Linked DNA regions of Homo sapiens: region 2 is linked to region 1. Evidence: fine-mapped expression QTL. Tissue or cell type: subcutaneous fat. Region 1 holds a variant in brackets; the other region holds the start of a gene. All regions are shown on one strand. Distances are between the middles of the regions. Region 1 has its middle 37 kb from the start of ECRG4. Region 2 holds the start of ECRG4 (ECRG4 augurin precursor).

The links.
Region 2: it holds the start of ECRG4, and the variant in region 1 is fine-mapped to the expression of ECRG4 in subcutaneous fat (GTEx, PIP 0.98).

What each region holds. Positions count from the first base shown.
Region 1 is chr2:106,021,014-106,036,137 of GRCh38, forward strand. No RefSeq gene overlaps it. Among named protein-coding and RNA genes, the nearest start is that of ECRG4, 37 kb to the right of the region's middle. The variant A/G (reference allele first, on the strand shown) is at 6,022.
Region 2 is chr2:106,057,588-106,072,711 of GRCh38, forward strand. ECRG4 (ECRG4 augurin precursor) reads left to right here and starts at 8,101. Exons shown (of 4, transcript NM_032411.3): 1 at 8,101-8,256; 2 at 14,257-14,304. The coding sequence starts at 8,178.

The DNA.
Region 1 (15,124 bases):
GGCAGTGTCGTTTGCACTTGGCTCTGTAATTAGGAGCTACTGGTGAGATGCTTTTTGGAAGTGAGCGAGCCCTTTCAATTTGGCCATTTGTGGTCCTGAATTACAGCTGACTGGAAATTAAAGCTGTAAGCGCAGCCTCAAACCACAGGGAATGGGGCTGAGGGCCTCCCAGCCACCTGGCACAGCTCTGGAATGCTTACAGCACTTGATAACGCTTGCTAGGGGCAAGACAAGGGCAATAAAATGTGAATTAGATGGAGATGAACATGCCATCCGGGGCAGGAAGAAATCCTCAAGCAGATGTGTGTGGAAATTAATGGTACGGTGATAACAAATGTTGAAGCACTGCACAGTGACCATACTGGGGAATCGGCCCCCTGACAACTGTTTGTTTTACAAAGGGCGGGGCCTCCTGTGGATGGAAGGAAAACGTAAGAGGTAATAGCTTTTGAATTTGGTGCAGTTGATGCATATTAAGGAGATCTTCCAGTCTGTTTCAGGAATGCATTTCAATCTGTGCTGCCAAAATCTTTGTTGGCCAGGGTCAATATTCAACTTATTAAAAGAAAAGTCTCATTCTCTTTCCCCTTTTTTCCATTTGCTCCTTCTCCAGATAAAGAACGAGGGTAACTAATGCAGAGAAAAAATAACCACCCTCAACCAGGAGGCCACGCTGCAGAAGGATCCATCTCTCTGAGTTGTCTCTTTACCCTAGGCTGGGTCTGGATGTTCAGAGCAGAGTTTTAGCAGGCATGCTTTGGAGCTCAAGAACAGGGGTCCCCAACCCCCAGGCTACAGACTGGTACCAATCTGTGGCCTGTTAGGAACCGGGCTGCACAGCAAGAGGTGAGTGGCAGGTGAGTGAGTGAGCATTACTGCCTGAGCCATGCCTCCTGTCAGATCAGCCTGGCATTAGTTCTCGAAGGAGCATGAACCCTATTGTGAACTGTACATATGAGGGATTTAGGTTGCATGCTCCTTATGAGAATCTGTACCTGATGATCTGAAGTGGAACAGTTTCATCCCAAAACCACCCTTCCCCACCCCTATACTCCCCCTAATCCCTGTCCGTGGAAAAATTATCTTCCATGAAACTGGTCTCTGGTGCCAAAAAGGATGAGGAACGCTGCTCAAGAACATAAAAGAAGTACAGACCCTAATCCTGGATGCTCGGGTAGGCTGGTGATTGGCTTTTCAAAAGCTTTATTTCTATTAAAGGAGAGAAAATAAAATGAGAAAGATACCACTTCGATGGCTGTAACAAAATTCTAATATTTAAAAGTGATACCAAAATATAGATTGTGTAAAGTAGGGAGCAGATTTCATGGTGGGAAATACAGGGCAGTGAAGTAGAAATAATTGCTGGGTTTGACATTTGAAGACCTAGGTTTGGTTCCTAGCTGGGCCACATTTTAGCGGTCACTATGGTCTTTGAGTACTTCCAGGCTCATCTTATATTTTTCCTGCTCAACACCCAAATTAGCTATTTACCAAGGAATCCTGGTTGCTTTTGATAGAGAGTGATACTTAGATCCGGGTGAAAGAAACCAAGATCTGGGGCCTACATATGCTCATTGCTATGAGGGCCTCAGTGTGTCTCCCTTTCAGTGGAGAGAACTAAGGAATGTATCTTTGGAATCATGGATTTATACTGATATCTTCAATTCAAAGACAATTCAACACAAATACATTGCCGAGTTCTTCCTCAATATCCTCCACACCATATTTGTATCTCTCTTCTTCCTTACTCATTGCTTTATTCTAGGACATAACTCAAAATATTCCAGAATCACAGTATCGATACCAGTACTGACAACAAAACTCCTAAGATCAAGATTTCTTTGCAGGTCTTTTTACCCTTAGAATAAGTCCAACTAAATGTGTATGCTTGGAGCTCAGCTTTTAAGTTACTTAATTCTTTTTTTCTATGTACTTATGTAACCAGTTTGGTAGATAGTATATCATTGTGTTGTGTTTATCCAAGTTTAGAGTGCTTCTAAAAAACTCTTTGATTTAATTTTATTTTTGAATATGTAAAACACATAATTCAAAAGTCAAAACTGGCCAGGCACAGTGGCTCACGCCTGTAATCTCAGCATTTCAGGAGGCCATGGCAGGAAGATTGCTTGAGCTCAGGGGTTTGAGACCAGCCCTGGCAACATGGCACAACCCCATCTCTACAAAAAATACAAAAATTAGCCTGGCATGGTGGTGCATACCTGTAGTCCCAGCTACTCAGGAGGCTGAGGTGTGACGAATGGATTGCTTGAGCCCAGGAGACTGAGGCTGCAGTGAGCTGTGAGTGTACCACTGCACTCCAGCCTGGGAGACAGAGCAAGAACTTGTCTCAAAAGAAAAAACAAAGTCAAAACTACATAAAAAGTGATAGTCATTCCTGTCCTTTACCTCTTACACTCTGAGCCTATCTCACCCCCCAAATTTCACTGGTTTATGATTTAATCTTCCTGCCATCACGGCTAGGCTAGAATCACGGTGTTGGCAGTGCTATCTTCCTTCCAGGTGATGATCCGTTTCCTCGCCTTTTCCAGCTTCTAGAGGCCACCTGCATTCCTTGGCTGTGGCCCCTTCCTCCACCTTCAGAGCCAGCAAAGTCAGGCTGAGTCCTCTTCATGCTGCATTTCGCTGGCTCCCTCTCTTCTGCCTCCCTTTTCCACTTATAAAGACCCTTGCAACCACATTGGGCCCACCTGCCCAAGACAGTCAGCTGATTAGCTGTCTTAATTCCATCTGCAACTTTGATAGCCCTTTGGCATGTAACCTAATATATTCACAGGTTCTAGAGATTAGGATGTGGACATCTTTGGGGCCATTATTCTGCCTGCCGTGGATTTCTGCTATCACATTGGCTAACTACTATTGGTTTGTTTCTTGCAACCACATCAGAGGAGCCAGGAAACCTCCCAGAGGAAGTTTGAGTGTTTTCCCTACACCTGGGAACTGGTGTCAGGAAGGTTTTTGCTCACTCTTAATATCTCTGATGAAGCCTGAAATCCTGCAGGACTTAGCAATTGGTCTTGGAAGAAAAATGGCACCATTGTCAGGGCTGGAAGATGCTTTGTGCCTGAGCCAGCATCTGAGCAGCTGCAAGCATCCTTGTTGCACTCTCTTCCCCTTGAGGAATGAGGACAACGCAGCACCCACAGGTGTCCTCATCCGAAGCTGGGCTATTCTTTTACCCAGCTCAGCTCACTCAAGTTGCAAATCTGTGAATGCAAACTTGGAACGGAATGCCCTAAAACCAGCTTCAGCTAGCCCAAAGTTGGGGAGTAGAAGCGGGGAGGGGGGAGAATTATGACTTAAATTATGATTTTAAATGAACATGAGGTTGCTCTTTCCTTTCCAAAATTTGAAACCTGCCTTGCATTCCTGGCTACAATAAATAAGACTTTTGACATTTTTCTACAAGGTAAAAGGTAGACGTAAGAAGTGTGTGAGGAGATGTGTTCTCCCTCCTGCCCTCCGCCTACACTAGCAGCTCAAGGAGTTCCCTGGTTTCGATTGCCTCATTCCCCACCCTGGGCTGTTCTGTCCCTCAGGCAGGGCCTTGGGGCCTGTGAAATCAGGGGCCCCAGGAGAATCTAACAGGTGGCTTGGCTGAGGGTGTGGAGTCAAGAGGGACCTATGGTGAAGGTTGGCTCATGGAACCCTAATTTAGCTCATAAGGGTCCTTCACTAAGCTCTTCTGACCTGACACTCTATTTCTAGATGTATCCTTCCCTTTCTAGATGCGTCCTTCCCTTTCTAGATGTATCCTTCCCTTTCCTTATTCTCTGTCTTTTTCTGGGATGGGGGCTGAGTTTGGGATGTTAGTACAGACAGTGTGATGGGAGAGATCTTTCTTACTTTTCCAATTATGTTCTCTGTCTCTCTCCCTCTCTGTCTCTGTCTGTCTCTCTCTGTCTCTCCTCTGTCTCTGTCTTTCTCCTTCTCTCTCTCCCCTTCTATGTCTTCATCTCTTTCTCCTCTCTGTCTCTCTCTTTCCCCATTTGCTATCCCTCTCTGCCTCTTTCTCTGTCTTTCTTTCTCTCTGCTTCTCTCTCTCTTCCTTTCTTGTTTTCTTTCTTTCTCAACCTCCTCTGGCTACAAATGAGATCTATACCAGATTTTAAATCCTGCCTTTAACTTTGTGATAAACCACTATTCACTGCTTTGAATTTCAGAAATTAGAAATATTGAGCATATGTCCCCGTAGGCACCAGGGAAAAGCATTTTCTTGTTCACAGAGGTGTCACCTCTTTTTCCTTGCAAAATTCTGCCCTGGAGCAGATCTCATGTGTGGGCCTGAATAAAAATGTGACTAGAAAGTAATAATATGGTCGACTTTTCTTTTTTTTTTTTCCTGATAAGTGAGCGTAGTACCCTTCAGTTAGGTGCTCTGAGAGCCTAAGCATTTATTCCAGTCCACTCCTTTCGGGACATTGAGTTTAGACTCTGCCTCATATTTTGGGGGCAATTCCCAGTACTAACAAATATTTGTCTTTGGGAGTGTTTTTATTTTTGGAACCAACCAAATGCTCTTTAGAGCCCTGGTGAAGGTGGGTGATCTGGCAGGACGATGGCACATTTGGTCAAAAAGACGAAGATGTGACTCTAGTGCTTCTCAGAAGAGGCTACACCCTGCAGGTGGAGGGAGGATGCATAGGAAGATGTGCAATATTATACCTTTATATTTGAAAAAAATGCCTCTTGGAAACTTAAAATAACATTAAAAGGAGGCATAAGAATTTTAGGTATGTGAAAAGGGAACTATCGTTTTTAAATGTTTGAGAAACTGCTTTAAGATAACAAAGGAAATATTCCTGTGTAGTCAGAAAAAGAGCTATGGACACAAGTTTCTGCAAGGGCTCAAGTACATTGCAGCAGCAGGTGGTGGTGAAGCTGCCCCACTCTGAAGCCTGGTATCAGACGCACAGGGTCAGGCAAGCAGGAAATACCAGGACTGCCCACGTCCCCTCACACAAGGTCTCAGCAGGCCTCAGTCCCACTGGGAATTTTAATGGAGCTTGTTAGCTAACCAGGGAAGCCCTGGAGGAGGCCAACCTGCGATGGAGAAGAATCTGGAAACCTTCTAATCTTTGGAAGAACTGAAGCCATTCATAATGTGTGTCTTTAGGAGAGGAGGCCCGTGGGATATTGGCCAGCTGCCTTCAAATATTTGACGGGTTGATGTGAAAAAAAGCTTTGACTTATTCTGTGTATCTCATGGGGGAATACATGAAAAAGAAAGAATGTCCTTTCTTTTTCTTTTCCTTTAACCTGTTTTATTTCAAAAAGGATCAACAGCAACTTACTTACAAAGATTCATATGACCCAACAAGACAAAATGAAATCCCAGCATCTAGATAATAAAATCAAAGTAAAGAGAAAAGAAAGGTTGGAAAAAGACATGAAATAGAAAGGCGATTAGGACACAGAAGGATGTGGTTAAGTGGGTTATAGGTGGGGCTCTAATGTTTTATGATAGTAGAACTAAGTCAACGAATTAAAGAGGGTTGGGCTTGGGGATAAAACTAGGAGAAATTTCCAAATTCTCATTGTCCAGCCATGGGAGAGGTCACCCTGGGTGTGGAAAGGTCCTCAGCATTGCAAGATGACCTGACTTGGCCTCGAATTATGACTATCAGCAACTGGGAGGGGAATCCCATCCTGGAAGGAAGACAGGCTGGGCAGAATGAACTCCCAAGTTCCACAAAAATCGTTGGTTTAGGAATCAGTCTCATTACTGTGTACATTGTGATGGGTTCACAGCCACAGTCAACTTACCATACATGGGTCATCTGAGTGTTGTTGAGGCAGAAAAGATGTTGTATTCCTCAAAGGACCTCCCCTCAATTCCTTTCTGAAACCCATAATCCCCAAGGCAAGTACTTTAATTCCCTGAAGAGAGATAAGGATGGAATGCAAGACCTAAGGACTCACAACACATTTTTAAAAGTTACACTAAGTTGGAGGTGACTGACACAGAGACCTTCCAAAGAGCAGAGGCCATGGGAAATGGAA[A/G]AGGCATGTGGCTGCTGGGCCCCGAAGGAGCATCCTTCAGAGCTGCCCCAATCTGATCTCCCATGCCACCAGGATACTTCTCGTACCTGGTCATGGGGACCCTGTTTTTACATGAGAAAATATGGTTTTCACAGTATGGAGATTCCCCAAAGAACTAAAAATAGAACTACCCTTCAACCCAGCAACCCCACTACTAGGTATCTGCCCAAAGGAAAAGAAATCATCATATCAAAAAGACACCTGCAGTCATACATTATCACAGTGGTAGCCACAACAGCAAACCATGGAACCAATCTAAGTGTCCGACAATGGATGATCGCATAAAGAAAATGTGGTATAGGCCATGCGCGGTGGCTCACGCCTGTAATCCCAGCACTTTGGGAGGCCAAGGTGGGCGGATCAACTGAGGTCAGGAGTTCAAGACCAGCCTGGCCAACATAGTGAAACCCCGTCTCTACTAAAAATACAAAAATTAGCTGGGTGTGGTGGCACATGCCTGTGGTCCCAGCTACTCGGGGGGCTGAGACAGGAGAATCGCTTGAACCCAGGAGACAGAGGTTGCAGTGAGCTGAGACCTTACCATTGCACTCTAGCCTGGGCGACAGAGCAAGATTCCATCTCACAAAAAAAAAAAAAAAAAAAGAAAAAGAAAATGTGGTATATATACACCATGGAATAACTTTGTAACCATAAAAAGAATGAAATCATGTCTTTTGCAACAACATGGATGGAGCCGAAGGCCATTACCCTAAGTGAAATAACTCAGAGGCAGAAAATCAAATACTGCATGTTCTCACTTTTAAGTGGGAACTAAACAATGGTATACGTGGATACACAGAGTGGAATAATAGGCACTGGAGACTCCAAAAGTGGGAAGGGTCAGGGTTGTGAGAGTTAAAAAATTACCTACCGAGTACAGTGTTCGCTCTTTGGGTGATGAGTACACTAGAAGTTCAAACCTCAGCATCACGCAATATATTCGTGTAACAAAACTGCACTTGTACTCCTGAATCTTATTAAAATAAAAGTAAATAAATAAACATTTTTTTAAAAAGAAAATATGTTTTCAGTGTTTCAGCAACCAAGGTGTATGCCCCATGGGTCACTGGATGTGACTAGCGTTTCTTTATTTAGGGTACTACCCAGGAAGGCTGAACATGGCCACCTTCAACGTCTGAATCTCTCCAACAACACAGTGAAAGGTTTTTTCCTTGTCTGTCCTGGTCGAAAGAGGAGGCATGGCTCTCCTTAAAGGTGTGACTTGGACCTTGGTTTCCACTATCTTTTGCGCCTCCATCATCACTTGGCCTCTAGGCTTGCCACACAAGAGGATAGAAGGCGTGGCACAGTATGGCCACACCTCTGCTCACACCTCTGTGACCTATTTCCTGCCATAAAAGTTACTATCTCACTAGCTGGCTCCAGCCTTCTTGGAGAACCAACTCTCCTGGTTAACTGCTAAGGGAAGGTGAGGTACAGAGGGCATGGGTGTTGGTGGGAGACCAGGCAGCCACAGAGGTGGCCCCAGTGCTCTGGCTGGAGAAAATGAGAGAAGTTTTGCCTTGCTTCTGAAAGGGAGGAAATAGTGAAAGGAGTTGGCCTGATCTGGTGAACCTGGGGCTTTTCAGGGCAGGGTGAGGGTGCATGATGGGGGAGAATTGCCTGGTGGAGCTTCCAAAGGGGTTTGAGGACATGTACATCTCAGGTTCTATGGAAACTTGCTTGTCTGCATTGGTGTGATATAAGCAATCCTGTTTCCTCCAAATCTTCAGCAGGGTTTATTACATACAAAATTACCACCATCCTGCCAGGTTCCAAGTTGTAAGCAACAGAAACCTATTCTGGCTAGTTGAGGAGCAAATGCATTTGGTAAAGGGTATTAGCTGGATCGAAGAACTCCTGGGGACCAGAGAACTGGGCTGGAGACTTTATGGTAAACGGTCATGCCCAATTCACCCCAGAATGGGCCCGGTGGAGCCCACACTGTGGTCATTTCTAGCATAGATGCTGCAGTATGCACCACCATCTCCTTGGAGGCAGGCCTCCAAGGCCACCTCTGTGGCTGCCTGGTCTCCCACCAACACCCATGCCCTCCGTACCTCACCTCCCCTTAGGGTTAACCAGCCGAGTTACTTCTCCAAGACATCCGGAGCCAGCTGATGAGATAACCTTTATGGCAGGATATAGGCCACCTTGCCTAAGGTCCTGCCACTGCTCTCTCTGAAACCTGTGTGTAGCTGCCACCACCTTCACCAGTGTCACTACCCCTGATTCAGGGTCTCTGGTGATTTCATCTCTCTGTTTCCCTGGGAGACTTGCCTGAGCCCTGGAGGCAAGAGAGGCTAGCACAGCAAACCAGCTCCACAGAGACTCCCAGGTGTTCAAGGTCTCAAATCTAGGAAGGCTGGATTAAAATGCATGATAAATATCTGCTCTGTGACTCTATGTGGAAATCAAAGAAGAAGCTGTATTTTTTTTTCTTTTTAGTCTGAGAAGAACAGAGATTTGGGACCTGACAGTATATGAACAGGAGAAGGAGTAAATCCTGACACACCCCACCACTCCAATTTTCCCAGCAAAAATCTTGGGCAGGGTGTGGACATCCACAGATTGTAGAATGAGGTGTTAAGCATACTCTGACCTACATCTCATGGAATAGATGGGTCCAGGTGCTGTAATCTGATCAACCCCCTTCCAGTAAGAAAATGCCTTAAAACTTCCCTTTGAAAATAAGAAAACTACCTAGATAGAAGAAATTATCCCAGCCATAGGGAACTAGGCAGCATATTCTGTTGCCTCTTATCAGAGTCTGGCCCTAACTGGCTGTGTGTCTGCAGGCAAGCCATTTAGCCTCTCTGGGCTTCTGTTCAATGAAGGGCTCTGGGGGATTTCTATCTATTATTTTGCACTCAGCATTCACAGTTTAGTCCATTCACTTCAGGGAAACTTTTTTCCTGTACTTTTTTGAGATATAATTTATACAAAGTGCACAATGTAGTGTACAGCTTGATGACTTTTTAGGCGCACACACACACACACACACACACACACACACACACACCCCTCATGTAACCACAACCCTGATCAAGATATGAAACATTTCCCACATCCAGAATGTGTCTTTGCGTTTCTTCCAGCCAATACCCCACACTCCAGGTTTAACCACGGTTCCGACCTCTATCACCATGGCTTCGTTTTGCCTGTTCTTGAACTTCATATAAAATAGAATCATACAGTGTACTTTTGAACGTCTGGTTTCTTTCATATATAACATGATACTTTGAGATCCATCCGTGTCATTTTAGGTAGATTTTAAAAACTGCAATTGAAAATTCTGGAATAGAAAATTATTCCTGGCTTTTAAAAATAGACATGCCATGTACAGGAAGGATGGGGAGATTTTCTAGGTCAGCAGAGGGTGCAGCGTTGTCTCCTCTGAGACCGGAGATCTTGATTCAAGCTGCAGAATGTGATTCTGTGGCTGATCCAAAGATTTTATGAACAGTGAGTAAGGCAAGGAGGAAGGGGAGAGGGGAAAGAGCGGGAAGGGAAGGGTGGGTGAGGAAGAAGGCAGGGGTGCTGGGGAGCTGCGGGAGCTTGCGCTTCCTTTTCTGGCATCTACTGTTCTCTCAGATCAAGTACAGTTGTGTAAACAGATCTGTGCCTGGAATGTAAGGAAGGAGGGAGGGGAGCCAAGTAAGTCAGAGACTGCTGGAAAACAGGAAGAACTTGCCTGAAATAGACTAGCTCGTGCCTTCAGGATGGGACTCCTGGAGAAGCCATCAGGCCTGTGAATCAGGCACAGCACAGTAGAAGCACTACCTGGCATTGTGCTGTCCAGGCCTGGGGTGGCACTGTCCCTGTCCGGGCCCCTGTACTAAGTAGTCGAGTATTAATGGGCTGGCAGAGCAACTAGCCAAGCAGAGGCCCCCGTGGCTTAGGGGCTCATCTTTACTCAGCGAGATGAGTGTGGGACTGGCGGGGACTGTCCCTTCCAGTCCCCACTCGTCTTCCCCTCCCACTCCACCCCCAGCCAGCTGCTCTCAGCATCAGGGTGTTGAAAACTTGCATCACACTACATGGAACGTTGTAATTGTGAAATAGTTCATGAGAGATGGAAGGTGGACTTTTACCTTTGAATCTTTGTTCATAAACAAATGGTGCTGTACCCAGTGGGAATTCCACACCATCTCCCAATGCATCCCATCAGTAACAGGTTTTTGCCTCTTTACCTGCGTTTCTCTTAACTGTGATTATTATTTTTTTGAGATAGGGTCTCACTCTGTCACCCAGGCTACAGTGCAATGGCATGATCTCAGCTCACTGTAACCTCTGCCTCCTGGGCTCAAGCAATACTCCTGCCTGAGCCTCCTAAGTAGCTAGGATGACAGGTATGTGCCAGCACGCCCCACTAATTTTTGTATTTTTTTTTGTAGAGACAGGGTTTCACCATGTTGTCCAGGGTGGTCTGAAACTCCTGGGCTCAAGCAATCCACCCGCCTCAGTCTCCCAAAGTGCTGGGATTACAGGCGTGAGTCACCATGCTTGGCCTAATTATTTTAATGAAGTATTAAAAAATTATTTTTTGCTCTGACGAAAGCTGATCTTGTATTCTCCCCCATTCTCTGTTCACTTTATTATTTCCTTACAGGCCTTAAGCAACTGGACACTTCTGTTTACATACTAACAAAGTCCATGGATTCAGGTACACTGAGGAATCAGTTGCTGCTGTTTCCATTAAGACTTTTGGCCTTGAAAAAATATCTTTTAAAAAAATAATTTAGACTTTTTTTTTTTTTTTTGAGACAGAGTCTCGCTCTGTCACCCTGGCTGGAGTGCAGTGGCCCAATCTCGGCTGGCTCACCACAACCTCTGCCTCTAGGTTCAAGCGATTCTCCTGCCCCAGCCTCCAGAGTAGCTGGGATTTCAGGCATCAGCCACCACGCCCACCTAATTTTTTGTGTGTATTTTAGTAGAGACGGGGTTTCACCATGTTGTCCAGGCTGGTCTCAAATTCCTGACCTCAAGTGATCTGCCCATCTCAGCCTCCCAAAGTGCTGGGATTACAGGCGTGAGTCACCACACTCGGCCGTAATTTAGACTTTTATTTTAGATTCAGGGGGCATATATGCAGGTTTGTTATATGAGTATACATGTGTGATGCTTAGACTTGGGGTACAATTGATCCCACCATCCAGGTACTGAGCATAGTACCCAATAGTTTTTCAACACTTGCTGCCTCAGTTTCTTCCCCAGTTTCTATTGTTGCCATTGTTTTGTCCATGAGTACCCAAAGTTTAGCTCCCACTTATGAGTGAGAACATGTGGTGTTTGGTTTTCTGTTCCTGTGTTAATTCACTGAGGATAATGGCTTCCAGCTGCATCCATGTCGCTGCAAAGGACACGTAAAATCTTATCTTTAAAAAAAAATGTCAGCTGGGCACGGTGGCTCATGCCTGTAATCCCAGCACTTTGGGAGGCAGAGGGGGGGTGGATCACCTGAGGTCAGGAGTTCGAGACCAGCCTGGCCAACATGCTGAAACCCCATCTCTACTAAAAATACAAAAAAATTAGCCAGGCATTGTGGCGGGCGCCTATAATCCCAGCTACTAAGGAGGCTGAGGCAGGAGAATTGCTTGAGCCCCGGAGGTGGAGGTTACAGTAAGCTGAGAACATGGGCCACTACACTCCAGCCTGGGCGTCAAGAGTGAAACTCCATCTCAAAGAAAAAAAAAAAGCAACATCAAATCCAGGGCCAGTGAAAAATTGTTTCCAAATTGGCCATGCTCCAATGTGGATTTTTAAAAGTGGAATGAACAACAATGGGACACAAGTATACATCTATTAGAATGGCGAAAATCCCAGAAGCTGACAATGGCAATTTCTGGTGAGGATATGGAGCAACAGGAAGTCTCATTCACTGCTGGTGGGAAAGAGAAATGGTACAGCCACTTTGGAAGACAGTCTGACAGTTTCTACAAAGCTAAGCATACTCTCACTATATAATGCAGCAATTGCACTCCAAAGTATTTACCCGACTGATGTGAAAACTTATATCTGCACAACAACTTGCACTCAAATGTTTATAGCAGCTTTATCGATGATTGCCAAAACATGGAAGTAACTGAGATGTCCTTTAACAGGTGAATGAATAAGCAATCTATGGTATATCCATACAATGGAATACTATTTAACAATTAAAAAGGAATGGACCCTCAGTCCAAACAACAATGTGGATGAATCTTGAATGCATATTGCTAAGTGAAAGGAGGCAGCATGAATAGACTGCATACTGTATGATTTCATTTTATGATATTCTAGTAAGGGAAGAGTTACAGAGATAGAAAACAGATTTATGTTCATCAGGGGATTGGGGAAGAAGAGGGGAGGAATAGGGAAAGCACCCAGAATTGTTTTACAGCCGTGAAATTATTTCATAAGGCACTGTAGTTGTGGAGACATGACACTATGAATTTATCAGTTGGGAGATTGGTAATCCCAGGATGGAATCCAGCCTGTGGCAAAACAATCTAACTGTATTACAATGTGGCATAACCTCACTGAAGGAGGCAGGAGAAAAGGTGATGATCTGAGTAACTTGGAAATGAGTGGAGCCTGCAGGACTAAAGACAAAAGAAACAATACAGAAGTACTATACTCCAGCTGATAAAGTTGTTTCTTATGTGCTTTGGGTTAACAATTTTGATACTTCTCTACATGTATACTTGGATTAAGACTATTAGTAAAAGATGATGGATGGTGGGAGGCAGGTTTCTCTCTATTGGAGTAAATGGTTACAGAAAGCCAAGGGAATGCCTAGAATGAACCATGTGGTTCTCTGTGTGAGACATTAGTCTAGACTCATGTTTAGCTTAACGTAGATACAGATCAATAATTATGGAAATAATTCTGGATATGTGTGCACACACAGGTAGACCCACCCTCATATATTTCCAAACTCTGTCTGCTGAAAGGGCCTAGAATCAATGAACCCTGGTAATGACAAGCTAACTCATCACCCTGATTTTGGTTTCTAATGCCATTAAAGGAACCAGAGCTCCTTGGAGAAATGGCTGAGTTTAAGACTGTGGTGGGAAATGCACCTGGAGATGAACTTGGAACCTCTTATAATCACAGAAGATAAGAAGGACCTCAGAAAACAAAAGCATGTGGCCGGGCGTGGTGGCTCAGGCCTGTAATCGCAGCACTTGGGAGGCCATGGCAGGTGGATCTCTTGAGGTCAGGAGTTCAAGACCAGCCTGACCAACATGGTGAAACTCTGTCTCTACTAAAAATACAAAAACATTAGCCGGGTATGGTGGGGGATGCCTGTAATCACAACTACTTGGGAGGCTGAGGTGGGAGAATCACCTGAACCCGGGAGGCAGAGGTTGCAGTGAGCTGAGGTTGCAGTGAGCTGAGATTGCGCCATTGCACTCCAGCCTGGAGTGGGTGACAGAGCAAGACTCCATCTCAAAACAAACAAACAAAACAAATAGAAAAACCCACAAAAGCCTGGGATTACATCAAAAGAACACAGGAGCCAACAGAAAGGGCTCCCAATGGCCAAACCCAGAACAATTTGAGCAACAAAGTAAATAATGTAATTTGGATTATAACCCAAAGTATAAAATAACAACAACAGTGTGTTTGTAGTTAGATAAATAAGGGATTGAATAGCTAAATACACAGGGTAGAATAGACAAAACTCCTATTCAGAATTTCAAATAATTTATGTAGATACTTGCTTCTCAAAGAGGTGGGACATAACTTCCCACAAGTAACTGTACGCTGAGCCTAGTGACTTCCTTCCAATGAGTACGGTGTGGAAAATGTCAGGGTTGAGACGGAGACTGCCTCAGCCAGGTCATGAAGACTAGCATCAACAGCGACAAGTCATGCTGATGTATGGACTCTTGATGTGATGCAGTGAGAATGGCATTTTACTTCTGAGATCTTCCTCCCAAAATCCTAACCCCAGTCTAATCATAAGAAACATGTCAGACAAAAGTAAATTGAAGGACCTTCTGCAAAATACCTGACCAGCACTCCTTAAAACTGGAGAGGTCACCAAAGACAAGCAAAGTCTAAGAAACTGTCAGAGCCAAGAGGAGCCAAAGGAGACACGACAACTTAATATAATATATCCTGGATGGGATCCTGGGACAGAAGACAGACATTATATAAAAACGAAGGGGGGGCTGGGCAAGTGGCTCATGCCTATAATCCCAGCACTTTGGGAGGCTGAGGCGGGCAGATCACTTGAGGTCAGGAGTTCGAGACTAGCCTGGCCAACATGGTGAAACCCCATCTCTACTAAAAATACAAAAATTAGCTGGGCATGGTGGCAGGCACCTGTAATCCCAGCTACTCAGGAGGCCGAGGCAGGAAAACTGCTTGAACCCAGGAGGCGAAGGTTGTAGTGAGCCAAGATCACACCATTGCACTCTAGGCTGGGCAACAGAGCGAGACTCCGTCTAAAAAACAAAACAAAACAAAAACGAAGGGAATCTGAGTAAAGCCTGGACTTAATTAATAATAACTACGCGTCAGTGTTAGTTCATTAATTGTGACAAATGTGCTATAGGAATGTAAGATATTAACAATAGGAGAAACTGGGTGTGGGGCTGTAAAAACTCTCTGTGTTTGCTTTGCAACTTCCTGTACATCTAAAACAATTTTAAAATATAAAGTTGATTTAAAGTGGAATGGATAAATATAGCTAACATTTATGCCAAGGTAAAGAAAAATTTTTTTCACCAGAAATTCTCTGAATTGTGTCAAAAATCTAACAATGAATTTGGAAGATGTGTTTGATGAGTGCTTCTGGAATCCAGGCTGAGCCTCCATGCTCCCTACTGCAAAAGGCGAAACCTCATCCCCTAGATATGAGATAAAAAGAAGGATATGTTTTGTACAGGATAAGTTTTGCTCATGAAAGGAATGCAAATAAGAATTGGGAGAGGGAAGGCCCAGGAAGTCAAGCGGAGAGTGGTAGGAAAATTGTGATGAGATGTGAGAAACCTTCCTTCTTCAGCAAAGCCTCCTTAATCAATCAAACTCTTGGTGGGTGTGAATTTTTAAAATTTTAATAGAAAACTGA
Region 2 (15,124 bases), 37 kb after region 1:
TTCAAACTAATATGCTAATATGATACAAATGGCTTTATGAGCACCAAAGGGGAAAGAAATCCTGGAGCAGAATCTCAAGCCAAAGAGGCACATTTTGGTAGAGGAATGACCTCACCCCAGAACCATGAGTTTGAGATAATGAACTCTCCATGTAAGGTATTTTGTAACCTGTCAATCACTTTTATGAATCTTTGTCATCTTGTTTCCAATAATACGAACCTTGATTGATTTTGGTCCTTAAAATACCAGTTCTGCATTGAGAACACACGGACACAGGGAAGGGAACATCACACACTGGGGCCTGTCGGCGGGTTGGGGGCTAGGGGAGGGATAGCATTAGGAGAGATACCTAATGTAGATGATGGGTTGATGGGTGCAGCAAACCACCGTGGCACGTGTATAGCTATGTAACAAACCTGCATGTTCTGCACATGTATCCCAGAGCTTAAAGTATAATAATAATAATAATAAATACCAGTTCTGAGACAGCTTTCAAACAGCTTGCAAATCGAACTACAGTCACCGCTGCTTGTCACATTAGAGTTTGTGTGCTGTTGCCCAACTAGACAGACAGCCTCCTGAGGGCTGGGATTCGTCCTCACACTCTCCCAAGCACAGCACCCAGCACAGCTTGTCCTCTGGAAGCCCTAAAGATGCAGACTGGGTGGCTGGAGCAGAGGGTAAGAGCCCGGGACTGAAAGTAAGAAAACCTAGATGCTGGTGCAAACTGCTGACTGGCAATAGCATCCCCCAGCCCTCGGGTTCCTTATCTGTAAATGGAGGCTCTATTCCTGCCCACTCTGCAGGACCCAGGGAGGTCAATCTGGAAATCATAAAGTACCATTTATACCAGAGGCTTTACATGAGCGGGGGCAGCCATCGTACCTCATGGGTGCCTAGACAAGTTTTGGATAAAATGCTTAATATAGATACGGTTACCTTTGCTGCTTTCTCCTTTCTGCAATGACTGGTGGCTGTTTTACTGTTACTATCTTATCAAACTTTCATTTAAACAAAGTGTCTTGGTGATATAATGCCTTAACAGAAGGACTGGATCTCTAATGCTGACGTGCGCTTGAGGGGAGCTGGTTTCAACTGCATGTTCACCAAAACCACAGGATCACTACATGGTCACACTTGCATATAAAGTTGCATTTACATTGGCAGCCTTAAAATCCTGTGCACAATAGACATAAATTTGTAAATAAACAACATAAACAAAACTAAATATGTAACAAAACAACACACAAAAAGAGAACATTTTTTAAAAGAATGAAAAACGAAAACTATCTGAGGGTGGCTCTGTGGCTTGTGGTGGGTGTAGTCTGCACTTAGTTGGAGAACTGGCTCTAATGACTTGGCCCTGCACAGAGCTGAGAAGGGCCCCAGCAATGATTCTCCAAGACTGTCAGGAGCAGTGTGTCTACAAGAACCCTTTCCCACTACTTGGGGGATTGAAGATACCTGTCAAAGCTGAAGGGACTGGTTTGGTCATTCAATAGGCAAGAAATCACTTAGGTGACCCCTATGGGGTCTTTTTTTCTCTGCCTGCTCCCCTGGTGCCAGGTTGCAGGCTGATCTTGCCCAGTTCCTGACTAACTAGACTGCAGGCTGGTGAATCATGGGACCCACCTTTGACAGCAGCCATCTGGCTATTGGCCTTGGGTGCCCGAAGGCTGATGCTCACCATCCATGGAGCTACAAGCTCCTGCTGTGAACCTATATGATTTGTGTCCAGTTGGTTGAGTGCTGCTCTGAGTTTTAGACGAAGGAGTCCACCGTGGGCCTCTACCCCATGAGGAAAAGGAAATCAGGAAATGTATGTGGGGAGTGTCTTAATGAGGGAATCCGTGCTTCAACCATGGCAGGCTGGATAAAGTCTTCCTATTCTCCTCAGATTTTCAGTACCTTTTTAGTTAAAATGCTGAAAATTAAAGTTTGAAAGAGACTAGAAACTGGCCTCATTCCATGTGTTAATCTGTTTGAATAATGTCATCTCATTTGACCAGAGAACCCTTACAGCTGCGATGGCCATTTATCTCACAACTTCTTTGGCTGTGTCCAGGTCCCCTGGCTGGCAATTTATGTTCATACTCACTCATGGGCCACCCCTCCCCATGAGGTCCTGGGCCCTGTGACTCAGGGGCCACATCTACCCGTGGGGTCCTGGGCACCTCTTTGCCAATCCCACTCACAGAACCCTTCTGTGAACTAGAGCCTTACATAATAAGAACTTTGTGCTTCTCAATATTTTTTTTAGACTGAAAGGAAATGTTCCCCCTTTCCCTGACTTTGGCTTCAGTTAGTTATTTCAAATGGCAAATGGCACAAGTTATTAAAATTCCAACATGGAAATTTGCTTAATAAACAGGAAAGGAGTTTTGAGGGCCCACCACTGAGCATGAATGTTAACCCTGTGGTTGCCGGCCCGTTGTTTAGGCAGTTTTCGGGCTGGCCTTGGGCAGGGTTCTCCCTCTGTAGTGGGCCTTCTTTGTCACTGTTCCTGGCTGCTGCTGTGAGCTGTTGTTGTATGTACCACATACTTTTCTAATATCAAACTTAAGAACACAAAATCAGGGTCATATGAAATGATCTCATTTATACATGATTTGTGTAATCATAGATCCACTTTTAGATGACATTTATTCCCTCATCAACTAAATACAGGGCGTTTGGTTCTATGAGGTAATTCAAAAAGAGAACAAAGAAATTAAGGAGCAAAAACATTAAAATCCAAGGGAGAAAAGAGAAATAAGGCACCAAATACATGTAAGATAGGAAAACACTCAGGGGAGCAGAAGATTTTTGGGCCAGGACCACACTTTCTTTTGAAAAAAAGAAAGAAAGAAAATGTGGTCCTGGCCCAAATGGAGAAGCAGGGAAAGCCCCTGGAGGAGGTAGCATCAGAGCTTGGTCTTGAAAGGTGGGTAAATGTGGCAGATGAAAGATGTGCACAAATCCTTTGACATCTTCCTCTTGAGAAATAGAATCTATACCCCTCCTCCTGAATGCCTGTAGGTTTTGTGAACTGCTTTGATCAATATAATACAATGGCATTGATTTGTGTCAGTTACCAGGCCAAGACCTAAAAATACTGGCAGCTTCCTCTTCTTGTCTTTTGGAGTATCTGATCTTGGAATACTCTCTCTGGGATCCTAAGCCATCATGCTGGAGAGGCCACATGTAGGCACTTCAGTTGACAATCTCAGCTGAGTCAAGCCTTCCAGCTATCCGTCCCAAGGTGCCACACAGGTGAGTGGAGCTGTCTGGGACTCTCAAGTCCAGCCCATCTGCCAGCTGAGTATCATTGATGATCTCTGTCAATACCACATGGAGCAGAAGAACCGCTCACTTGAGCCCTTCTTAAATTCCTGATCTCCAGGATTGTGATCATAATAAAATGGTGGTTGTTCTCTAAGCCTTTAAATCTGGGATCAGTTTTGAAGCAGTGATTGGTAACTGGAACGGTAGGGTTTTGAGTAGCAGAGATAAGGGCCCAAAGGCATCCCAGAGACTAGGAATGTTGTAGGTAAAGCCATGAACCTGTGAAGATGCAGAGAATTGATGCGTGAATTTTGAGTTTTGGGGAGATGAGGAAAACCATAGGAAGCATAAGAAAAAAATCACTGTTGTACATGTTTAAGGGCTAAATAGAGAGTCTGAAGGTCTCTGTGTATGTTATGTATTCTTACATATGTATAGCTAATGAAGTGCCACTAAGAGTCTATATTTTAAATTTTTATTATGAAAATGTATAAACATGTACAGAGAATAGCATAATAATCCCCTGTTGTCTCAGTCTGTTTGGGCTGCTATAACAAAATACCATGACCAGGTGACTTATAAACAACAGAAATGGATTTCCCACAATTATGGAGACTGGAAGTCCAAGATGGAGGCACCAGCAGATTTGGTGTCTGGTGGGGGCTCACTTCCTGGCTCATAGATTCACAGATGGCACCTTCTCACTGTGCTCTCACATGTCGGAAGGAAAGAGGGAGTTCACTAGAGGACGCTTTTTAAAGGATACTAATCCCATTCATGCAGGCTCTGCCCTCATGACCCTATCACCTCCTAAAGACCCCACCTCTAATACCATTACTTTGGGGGTTAGGATTTAAACAGATGAAATTTGGGAGGACAGAAACATTCAGACCATAGCTCCCAAACATATAATAACTGGGAGTCAAGGACAGCGTAAGTGGTTTCCTGGCAAAAAAATGATCTCTGTTTGCCAATCTTTTTCCTGAACTATTTTAAGTGAAATCCCATACATTGAATCACTTTACCCATAAAAATTCAGTATATAGTTCTAATAGACAGGGCTTTAAAATTGCAAATACAATACCATTTTCACACCTAAAATATTTAGCAATGTTAATTAAAATGAAGCCCTCTCGGCTGTCGAATCTCTCTTACTGCTGGCTCCTTGGAGGCAGAGTCAAGATGGACCTGGCCTTGCTGTGGTTGTTCTCTCTGAGGCCTCTCATAATCAAAGGCAGCTCCGTCTTAGACCCTGCCCCCTTTCCCCTGTGTGCATTCAGCTCACGGCACGCTCGCAGAGTGATGGCACTTCCTACAGTCCTCTATCTGCTATTGCCAGGTATCTGTGAATTGGAAGCCACAGAGGGAGGACCACTGAGGCCCCTGAGTCACGTGGAGGAAGGGAACACCATGTCTGGACTGTGTTTGAGAAGGTCAGTCTGACAATGTGTGACAATGGTATGTGGAGTGGATTGGAATCGTCTACAATGAGAGCTCCTGGCCAAAGGAAGGGAGGATCAGAGAGGTGTAAGAGCACTGGGTGGGGAGCTCAGAGGCCAGAGGGAGTTTGGTCTGAAAATAATTTCTAACATTTGTTGAGTGCTTACTGTACACCAGGCTCTGTGCATGTGATCTCTTACCCCAGTGTGATAGATAATATTGCCCCCATATTACCTCTGGCCTAGAGAGGACAGGTGATCTAATTACACAGTTTGTGCATAATGCAGAAGGAACTGGAACCCAAAGCCCACGTCCTTAGCTACTGTCACATGGCAGAAACGAAGGTCCTGGGGTTCATTTGGTATGGTATATCAAGGGAGAGAAACTGCATTATTAAACTGAGTGAGGCCAGGTAGAGACTTTAGGAAGCAGGTGCGTTTTGGTGGAGAGCTGAATGAGCTGAGTTACTCAAAGTGCAGTCTGAGGACTACAGCATCCTCTAGGAGCCAATAAAAACAAAATGGAGACAGCTGGGCCCCACCCAAGACCTACGTCATTCCAGGGGATTTGACTCAGAAATCTGCACTAACAAGCTCCTTGGGATTTTCAGACTAAGTTTGAGAAACACTGGAATGAAAAATCAGACCAGACTTAGCAGCGGGAGAAAGGAGGGTCTTGTACATTAAAGGGGTGAAAAATTTAAGCGACTAGTAAGAAAAGGACCTTTAATAGTGTCTCACATGTAGCTAGCATTTTATAAGTGCTACAGACTGAATTTTTGTGTCTCCCCTAAATTCATACATTAAATCCTAATTCCTGAAGTGAGGTGTTAGGAGGTGGGGCCTTTGGGAGATGATCAGGTACTGAGGATGGATCCCTCATGAGTGGGATTTGTGACCTCATAAAAGAGCCCCAGAGAGCTCCCTCACCCCTTCTACCGTATGAGGACACAGCAAGAAGGTGCCATCTAGGAAGCAGGAAGCAGGGCCTGACCAGACACCAAATCTGCTGGGGCCTTAGTCTTGAATTTCCAGCCTCCATAACTGTGCAAAATCCATTTCTGTTGCTTATAAGCTACCCAGCTTATGGGATTTTGTTTAGCAGCCCAAATGGACTAAGACAGTAAGTAAATACCGTTGAACAAATAGACAGATGAAAAGGAACTTAGATATCAGCATAAGAACTGACATAGTGTCTCCAGGCTGAACACATGAGTTTAGCGGCCCCTCTGAAGGCAGAGTGAGACGCTCCCTGCTACAGAACACTCTCTGGTCATATCCCGATTAAGTGAAGATAATTTATTTTTTTTTAGATAGTGTCTCGCTTTGTCACCCAGGCTGGAGTGCAGTGGCGCAATCTCGGCTCACTGCAACCTCCGCCTCCTGGATTCAAGTGATTCTCCTGCCTCAGCCTCCCAAGTAGCTGGAACTACAGGCACGCACCACCACGCCTGGCTAATTTTTGCATTTTTGTAGAGAGGGAGTTTCACCATGTTGGTCAGGCTGGTCTCAAACTCCTGACCTCAAGTGATCTGCCCTCCTCAGCCTCCCAAAGTGCTGGGATTACAGGCGTGAGCCACCATGATCCCCCTTAAGTGAAGAGAATTTGAATGTCATATTAGAAGTAGATATTGGTAGCAATTTGGGGTAAGGGGGATGATCTCCACAGGATAAATAAGATTACAGCCATTATGTTTAATGTATGTTCTAAACCAATCCAAACAGAATATTGGCTTTTTATGTGCTTTGATTTTTCTTTCTAATGATAAATTTCTTGTCCTCAGGCAAAAGTAAATATATGCCTGGTTACTTTTAAAACTCCTATCCCCTATTCTACAGTTTCCTCAAGGGTTTAGAAGCACTTCCCCAAGATAGCTAGATGTGTAACATTATCCTTCTGATTCTCTCTGACACCCTGGGCAGTATCATGATCTAACTCAGACCCACTTTGCACTTTTTTCTTTGGTTGGCCACCATCTGTCTTTACTAGCTCAATGTTAGAAGACTTCTTTCTCCTTCCTGCTGGAGAAATTCAACTGCATTGCATGGAGAGCTAATTATATGGAGAGACAGTAAGTGCTTACCACTGGAGGGTATAAAAATACTGGCCGGTGTGGTGGCTCACACCTGTAATCCTAACACTTTGGGAGGCCGATGCGGGTGAATCATTTGAGTTCAGGAGTTCAAGACCAGCCTGGCCAACATGGTAAAATCCCTTCTCTACTAAAAATACAAAATTAGCTGGGCCTCGTGGCACATGCCTTGTAATCCCAGCTACTCAGGAGGCTGAGGCAGGAGAATCGCTTGAACCCCGGAGTTGGAGGTTGCAGTGACTGAGATCCCATCACTGCACTCCAGCCTGGGCAACAAGAGTGAAACTCCGTCTCAGGGAGGGGAAAATAAGTGAGAACCTTGGTGAAGGAAAGAGGTAATCAGCTCAGTTCAGGGCAGATCTGAGATGGGAAGACAGGAAAGGTAATCTCACATCTCCATCCTTTTGTAGCCCAGGCCTGGAGAGAATAATTAGGTGACCCGCTCAGAGTCCGTTGGGATAAAGTTGTTCTAGTTTTTGTTCACTACGCCTCCTTTCACGTGTCCTCTACAGTTGAACAGGCCAGTTACTGGGATGCAGTTCTGCGTTTCCCTTGGGTCTCACCTTAACATCGCTCGCTGAAGTGTGCCCAGATTACAGAGCGGGCAAAGGGAAGCAGTGGTTTTGCTCACAGCTGCAGGGCACCAGGTTCCTGGTTTCTCAAAGGCTTTTCTATTGGAGAAGTTTGGGTGAGACGATTTCCCGGACTGCAGCTCTGAACCCAGACTGTGGAATCTTTCAAACTATCTCAAAAACAGCCCCGCCTAAGGCATCCTTAAGAGCAGCTCTGAACTAAGGAAATTCCAAAGCCCACTTTACAAACCAGGCAGAAGCAAGGCCCCCAAGCAGGGAGGGAGGGAGATAGGGAAGAAAGGGGTGAGGAGTAAGGGGAACAGTGGCGCGGCTGGGGCGGGCGGAGGAAGTGGGGGAGCCAAGGAGACACCCCAGCGCTGGGATCCGGCAAGTCCTCCCTCTGAGTGGCCAGGGGGCCTCGTCCCTTCTCCCGATGCCTTCTGCCCTTCCTTGGGTCTCCGGAACCCAGCTTGTCCTAACCGCTTTCGCTGCGGGCAGCGCTGGCCACGCGGCCCCCGCCGCCGGCGGTTCTCCGTGGCCAAGCATCCTTGGCCTTGGAGCCCAGGGGCTGCGTTCCCCTTGGGGCCGGGGCGGGAGAGAGGACCTCGGTGGTACTCGCCCGTGCGCTGGGCGCAGCCGCTTGGCCCTCAGCCCTCTGGCGCGGCGCCCACCCGCTGGGTCCCGCCCCGGCAGCGACGCAGGGATAACCCGCGGCCGCGCCTGCCCGCTCGCACCCCTCTCCCGCGCCCGGTTCTCCCTCGCAGCACCTCGAAGTGCGCCCCTCGCCCTCCTGCTCGCGCCCCGCCGCCATGGCTGCCTCCCCCGCGCGGCCTGCTGTCCTGGCCCTGACCGGGCTGGCGCTGCTCCTGCTCCTGTGCTGGGGCCCAGGTGAGCGGGGCGATGCCAGGCTGATTGATAGCGGCACCAGGGGTTGGCCCCATGTGGCGCTTCCATGGTGCCCGGGGAGAGCGATCGGTGATGGGGTGGCGGCGTAGGGACCCATCCTTAGCCTAGGCAGGGCCAAGGGGTGGTAGAGGACCGGGTCTGGGGTTTTGCACTCGCACAAGTGCGAAGTGGTGCCCTTGTGAGGGTGGAGAGAGTACCGGGGTCAAGGGGAGGGTCTCAGATCTCCCGGGCAACCTTGGGCAAGGAGGGCCAGGCGTCCGAAGGGTGGGCAAGTAGTGTTTCGTGGCTTAACGTAAGGGGCAAAAGGGTTGTGGGGGCTTTACGCAGCTGGTAACCCAGAGGAGGCAAATGGCACCATCACCGCCATTCCCTTCCAGGCAGTCGCTTAGCAACCAAGTTGACTTGCGCTTCCCAGCTGGGTCAAGTTGCAATTTGCAAAGCTGGGCACAGGCCTCACACCCCAGAGAGGGGAAAGGCTCTTAAAGGAGTAATGCTTAATCTTTCCTGCTTCGTGGAGCTCCCAGCGAATCGGTTGAAAACTCTGAAATTCTCTGCTCGCTCTCTGTAAAACGTGCATTCACACGCACACCCAGAATGATGGGTGCTCCGATATCTGATCGCTGGGCTCCACAGGCCCCACTTTAGGAACCATAATCTGAAGCCGTGGTTTGTCCTGAGTTACCACCTTCACTGGGTAGGAGGAACATTTATGGTTCACAAGTGGCCTCAAGGACACATGACTGCCTTTGAAGCTTACAACTAGGGGAGGCAGGGATTGTTACCTCAGAGTTACTGGTGTATGAAGTGACTTGCCCAAGAGCCTGAGACTGGCGCTGTCCCACTGCAAAGCAGCTGGGCACTGCCTAATGTAAAAGGGAGGCTCACTCGGTTGCTCAGTTTCTGTATTTTGCTCATTCGAAACAGGTATGGAAACTGAACTCGAGGTGAGAAGAGGCAGGGGACATTCAGTAGGAGCCCTGGGATGGAGCCCCGGGGTTGCTAAAACAGCAGGAGGCGTGGTGAGGTCTGTTCAGGTGGGGAGGATTATTGTTCCACCTTAGAATCACAGGCGAAGCTAATCAGTCATTTCCCGTTGTATGGTTTACCTGCCTCCCACTCTTTGTTCTTGCCACTTTAAGAAGCACATCTGGGCCGGCCTTGGTGGTTCATACCTGTAATCCCAGCACTTTGGGAGGCCGGGGGGGGGGGGGGGGCAGATCACCTGAGGTCGGGGGTTCGAGACCAGCCTGACCAACATGGAGAAACCCCGTCTCTACTAAAAATGCCAGACGTGATGGCACGTTCCTGTAATCCCAGCTACTCGGGAGGCTGAGGCAGGAGAATTGCTTGAATCTGGGAGGAGGAGATTGCGGCGAGCTGAGATCGTGCCATTGCACTCCAGCCTGGGTAACAAGAGTGAAACTCCGTCGCAAAATAAAAAAAGAAATAAATAAAAGAAGAAGAAGAAAAAAGCACATCTGAATAAGTCAAGTGAGCACTGGCTACAAGCCATTTATTTTCAGGACTTGTATTTTATTTAGTTTATACCAATAACTCAGTTAAAATATCATCACCGAGCTGGGATGTGAAAGTTCTTATACAGTGAAAATATTTTTTTTTTTTTTGAGATGGAGTTTTGCTCTTGTTGCCCAGGCTGGAGTGTAATGGCGTGACCTTGGCTCACTGCAACCTCCGCCTCCCAGGTTCAAGCGATTCTCCTACCTCAGCCTCCCGAGTAGCTGGAATTACAGGCATGTGTCACCACGCCCAGCTAAGGTTTTTGTTTTTGTTTTGTATTTTTAGTAGAGATGGGGTTTCTCCATGTTGGTCAGGCTGGTCTCAAACTGCCGACCTCAGGTGATCCACCAATCTTGGCCTCCCAAAGTGCTGGGATTACAAACATGAACCACCATGCCCAGCCTACAGTGAAAATCTTTATGTAATCCCAAAGGTGACTCTTTATGCCACCTCCAAACTTTTTTTTTTTTTTTGAGACAGGGTCTCACTTTGTTGCCTAGGCAGGAGTGCAGTGGTGTGATCATAGCTCACTGCAGCCTTGATCTCCCGGACTCAAGCAATCCTCCCACCTCAGCCTCCCGAGTAGCTGGGACTACAGGTGTGTTGACTCCACGCCTGGCAATTTTTTTTTTTTCTTTTAATTTTTAGTAGAGATGAGTCTCACTATGTAGCCCAGGCTGGTCTCGAACTCCTGGGCTCAAGTGATGCTTCTGCCTCGGCTTCCCAAAGTGCTAGGATTATAGGCTTGAACCACCACGCCCTTCCTCACTCACAAACATTTAATAAAGAAAATGACCGTGACCCCTTCTTGATCAATTTATTAATATTAAGCACCTTCAAAGGAGCATTTTGCAGCTCTGAATTTGCTGGGAGAGCTAATGCTAGGCAACTGGATTGGATAAATTAAGGAGTGCTTATTATTGCAGCCTTGAATGAACAACTGATGATATTGGGTGAAAAGTCCTTAATACAGAAAAAAATCACAGCTATTCTATTGTTCCTTATCCTTTTCCTCAAACAAATTTAGTGTAGTGTCCAGTTATATGTACTGATATGGAGTTCAGTGTATAGTACCTGGCACAGCAGCAACATTCATAATTCATAATTTGGGACTTATTTGTGCTTTTCCATCTATAGCTAAGGTTTGGCGAGGCTCTCATTTCTGGAGTAATAGTGACATACATTTGCTGCAAGAAATTGCAGCCTCATCGCAAATGCCTACACGCAGTGTCTATTTCAACATCAGACCACATTTCATTCATTAATTGTTAAGCACTTTCACAGAAGGCAAACAGATGGAGGGGCCATACTTAATTCTGTATGTACTACCCTGTGAGCTGTTAGAGACTGACAGATGTTAAGACATTAATGAATGCTATTATTAGTGCCAAGGAACATATCTGTCTCCCTTGGCAAATATTTTCATAGATTTCTTCATTGAATTTAAGTTTGGAAGGGAAGTAGAGCGTTAAACAGTAGTCCCACCCCCATCTAATTAGAAAATCCCCTCTACAGTAGCCTGGTCAAGTGCTCATCTATGTTTATTTATGCTCAGACGCCTCCAGCAACTCTTAATCTCAAACCCCCCAAGGCCATTTGTCCCATCTTGGGTGGCTGTCTATCTGGGCGTTAGAAACCTTACTTCATGCCCTAACCTATGGCCCAGTGGCCCCTCAAAGCATTGGCTCTCCTCCCACAAGTTTCCTTCCTCCCTTCCTTCCTTCCTTCCTTCTTTTTCTTTCTTCCTTTCTCTTTCTTTCTTTCTTTCTTTTCTTTCTTTCTTTCTTTCTTTTTTCTTTCTTTCTTTCTCTTTCTTCTTTCTTTTTTATTTTCTTTTCTTTCTTCTTTCCTTCTTTCTTTTCTTTCTTTCTTCTTTCTCTTTCCTTTTTCTTTCTTTCTTTTTCTCTTTCTTTCTTTCCTTCCTTCCTTCCTTCTTTCTTTCTCTCTCTCTTTCTTTCTTTTTTTTTTTTCTGAGATAGAGTCTCACTCTGTCACGCAGAATGGAGTGCAGTGACGCTACCTTGGTTCACTGCAACTTCTGTCTCCCAGGTTCAAGCGATTCTCCTGCCTCAGCCTCCTGAGTAGCTGGGACTACAGGCATGCACCACCACACTAGGCTAATTTTTTGTATTTTTAGTAGGGACGGGGTTTCACCAAGTTGACCAGGCTGGTCTCAAACTCCTGATCTCAGGCTATGCGCCTGCCTTGGCCTCCCAAAGTGCTGGGGTTACAGGTGTGAGCCACCACACCCAGCTCCACAAGTTTTATTTCTCTAGGTTAAACACCTAAATTCCTTTAATTTCTTCTCATATAACACATGTTTGGGCGCTAGTCCTCTCTGGACACTCTCCTTTGACCACAACTCCGGTTTTTCTATGACCTTCTTCAAGTGAGATGATGTGAACTGAACTAAATAGTAGAGGGGAGGTCTGTTCAGAGCTGTGATGGAACAGCGACAGGACAGTTACTTTCTTTTTTTAAGTATCCTTTATTAAACAGCCTAAGATTGCAATTGCTTTTTAAACAACTACATCACTATAGACCGACTTGAGCACAGACAACAAAAACCACTGCAGCTCTCCCACAGGCTGCTATGCACTACGCCGATATCTTAGCTGGCCACCCAGCAGACTCCCAGCTCTCATAGGGAAGGTGTGAGGGAAACCACCACCTCTCCTCCCTGGCCCTTCAGTGTGGTCCCTAGAGATCTTATGAAGCCATTTCCATGCCATTAAACCTCAAAAAATTGGGAGGCCATGTAATTTATCATCCAAGCTGAAACACTTTTGAGAGCAAAAGGAGGCACTATCATTAATTTACAAGGACAAGAGGTATATACCAGGGCTGTTCCTGGACAACCAGAAAGTGTGGCCACCCTACCCGTGAATTAGAAGGGAGGCACTTAGCAGGAAATAGACTTAATAAGTTCTAGCAGGTTCCCCGTCCCATCCCAGAGGGCAGGCCAGCAGGCTCCCTGGATGGCCCAATGACTCTGAAGGCAGCCAGGTAGCACTTTAATCCAAATGCTACAGGAGGCTAGTAGGTTAGGTGGCTGCTTACGGACCATGAGTGTGCCAAGTGACTTGGGCTGAGAGGCATTCAAATTCAAAATTTGTAGACACTGGGTATGCTAATAAAATGCAGCCTCAGGTGAGGCAGCCAGCTTGTGACTCTTGTTTATGGATATATTCTTCGCCCCAACTCCACAGTAAATTCTTTGTGCAGAGGTTCTCTTTTAAAACATTTATTTTTTCCCCCAGCTTTATTGATGTATAATTCACAAACAAAGCAGGCATTCTTAATTTTATTTGGGTCACAGACACTTTTAAGAGTCTGGCAAAAGCTATGGTTCCTATTCCCAGAAAACTGTGCCTTGGCAGATGCAAACGCAATTTTACATGCCTTTCTAGACCCCCTGGAGCCTGTCCATGGAAGGAGAGGCTAAGAACCCTGCTGAGAAAGTGGTCACCATTACCTCCATCCTGGGGCCTGACTCCAGTTCCTTACACCCGAAGTTGCTCTACTCACTACTTACGATGTCATGCAACAGTTAAGGGTCAGAGGCTCCTATAGGTCTGCAAGCCAGTTCGCTGGGTGGAGGCGTGTGTTCTATCAGGCCAGACAAGGTATTTTCTATTAAAAATGATTGAGCTGATCAGAAACACTTTTAAAAGTGAATACAAATAACAGCAAGTGGTACAAATCATACTTGATTTTAGGGTGATCTGGGCAAGCTACAAAACTGGGCTGCACTTTTAGAGAGCAAAGGCAAGTTCCCCAGTGTGTGGGAGCCTGACTCCCATTTCTGCCTGCCTCTGTCTTCACATGGGTGACCTCCGTGGATCCTCTCTTCTTCTTATAAAAACACCAGTCACTGGATTTCTGTCCATCTAAATCCCGTATGATAACATCTTGAGACCCTCTCAGTGATGGGTAAGGCTGTAAAAAAAAAAAAAAAAAAAAAAAAAAAAAAGAAAGAAAGAAAAGAAAAGAAAATAAAAAAAAAATAAAAATCTTGAGATCCTTAATGGATTATATCTGAAAAGACCCCATTTCCAAATAAGCTCACATTCAGGGGTTTCTGGTGGATAGGGGTTTCAGGAGGACACTATTCACTATTCAACGTATTACACCATGAAGTGAAAATTTGCAGGAAGATGCGCTTGACAGATGGCTGCGCCTCGTAGTAAGACACAGGGCTAAAAGAACAGCATCACTCTGACTAGCTCAAATAGTAATACCCTTGGTCGGCTGTGGTCATTATCACCAGTATTAGCCATGGGCAGCCTGAATTGTTTGTCCTGCAGGACAGGGAATACAGCAAGTGTTAAATACTGTGATGTTACCAAGTTGCCAAATCAAGGCAGGGGCCCGCAGTTCTTTTCTCCCACTCTGATTTTTGCCTTTGATAAATTGAAGGGAGCAGTATAACTCTGATATGGATTTCAATTTTCATTCCTTTAGGTGGCATAAGTGGAAATAAACTCAAGCTGATGCTTCAAAAACGAGAAGGTAAATATACCCCAAATGGATAAGGGATGCATTCTTAACTGGATGGAAATGAAATGGCAATATGGATTGTGCTCACTGGAGTCTTGTATTTGGAAAATCAAAAGTGTTTACTCCTTAAAAGGTTAGCAGATATGAAGGGCTTATTCTGTTGGTATGTGGTGTGGTATCTTATTAGATAAATATTATTGCCAGTAAATGTCTGAAGGTTATTTTTCTGAAACCTGTCAGTGTGGACTCAAAAATAAAAGAAACAGTAGTACAGTGTTAATTGCATGCTATTTATTTTAGGACCATGGAGCACTTTAGAGACTATCTTTGGAACACATAATCCTCAGTTGGTGGGGCAGGCGTGGAACAGCAGTGTTGCGGTAGTCCGTGTATCCAAAGAGCTCTTGGGGAAGGGTTTCAAACAGGAAAGCCTTTCTTGTTATTAGCCTCTGTTTTGAATAATGCATCTAAGATAAATGTGACAGCAACAAAATGTCATAGAAATTGAACAGTCTGGGGGTCACAACACACAGGTTCTGGACCTGCTGTAATCAGATCAGGTGGATCAATTGTGGGGTCTCGTGAATGTCATTTTCCCTCTCCCAACTTTCATCTCTATCTGTAAAATTAAGAATCCCTTAGAAATGAAAAAGTGTGACCACACTTCTGATGTGACCATTTAGTCAGTTATTCTTTCCCTCCTAGTTTGTGGGGGATTCTAGCAGGCTGAACTTCCTCCCTGAAGTGGGGTCCTCAGTCATTCTTCCCACACTCCCCAGTTGCTGCTCAGGGGCCCTCCCACAGGTGGCTGGAGAACAGGCTTGGGGCGGTC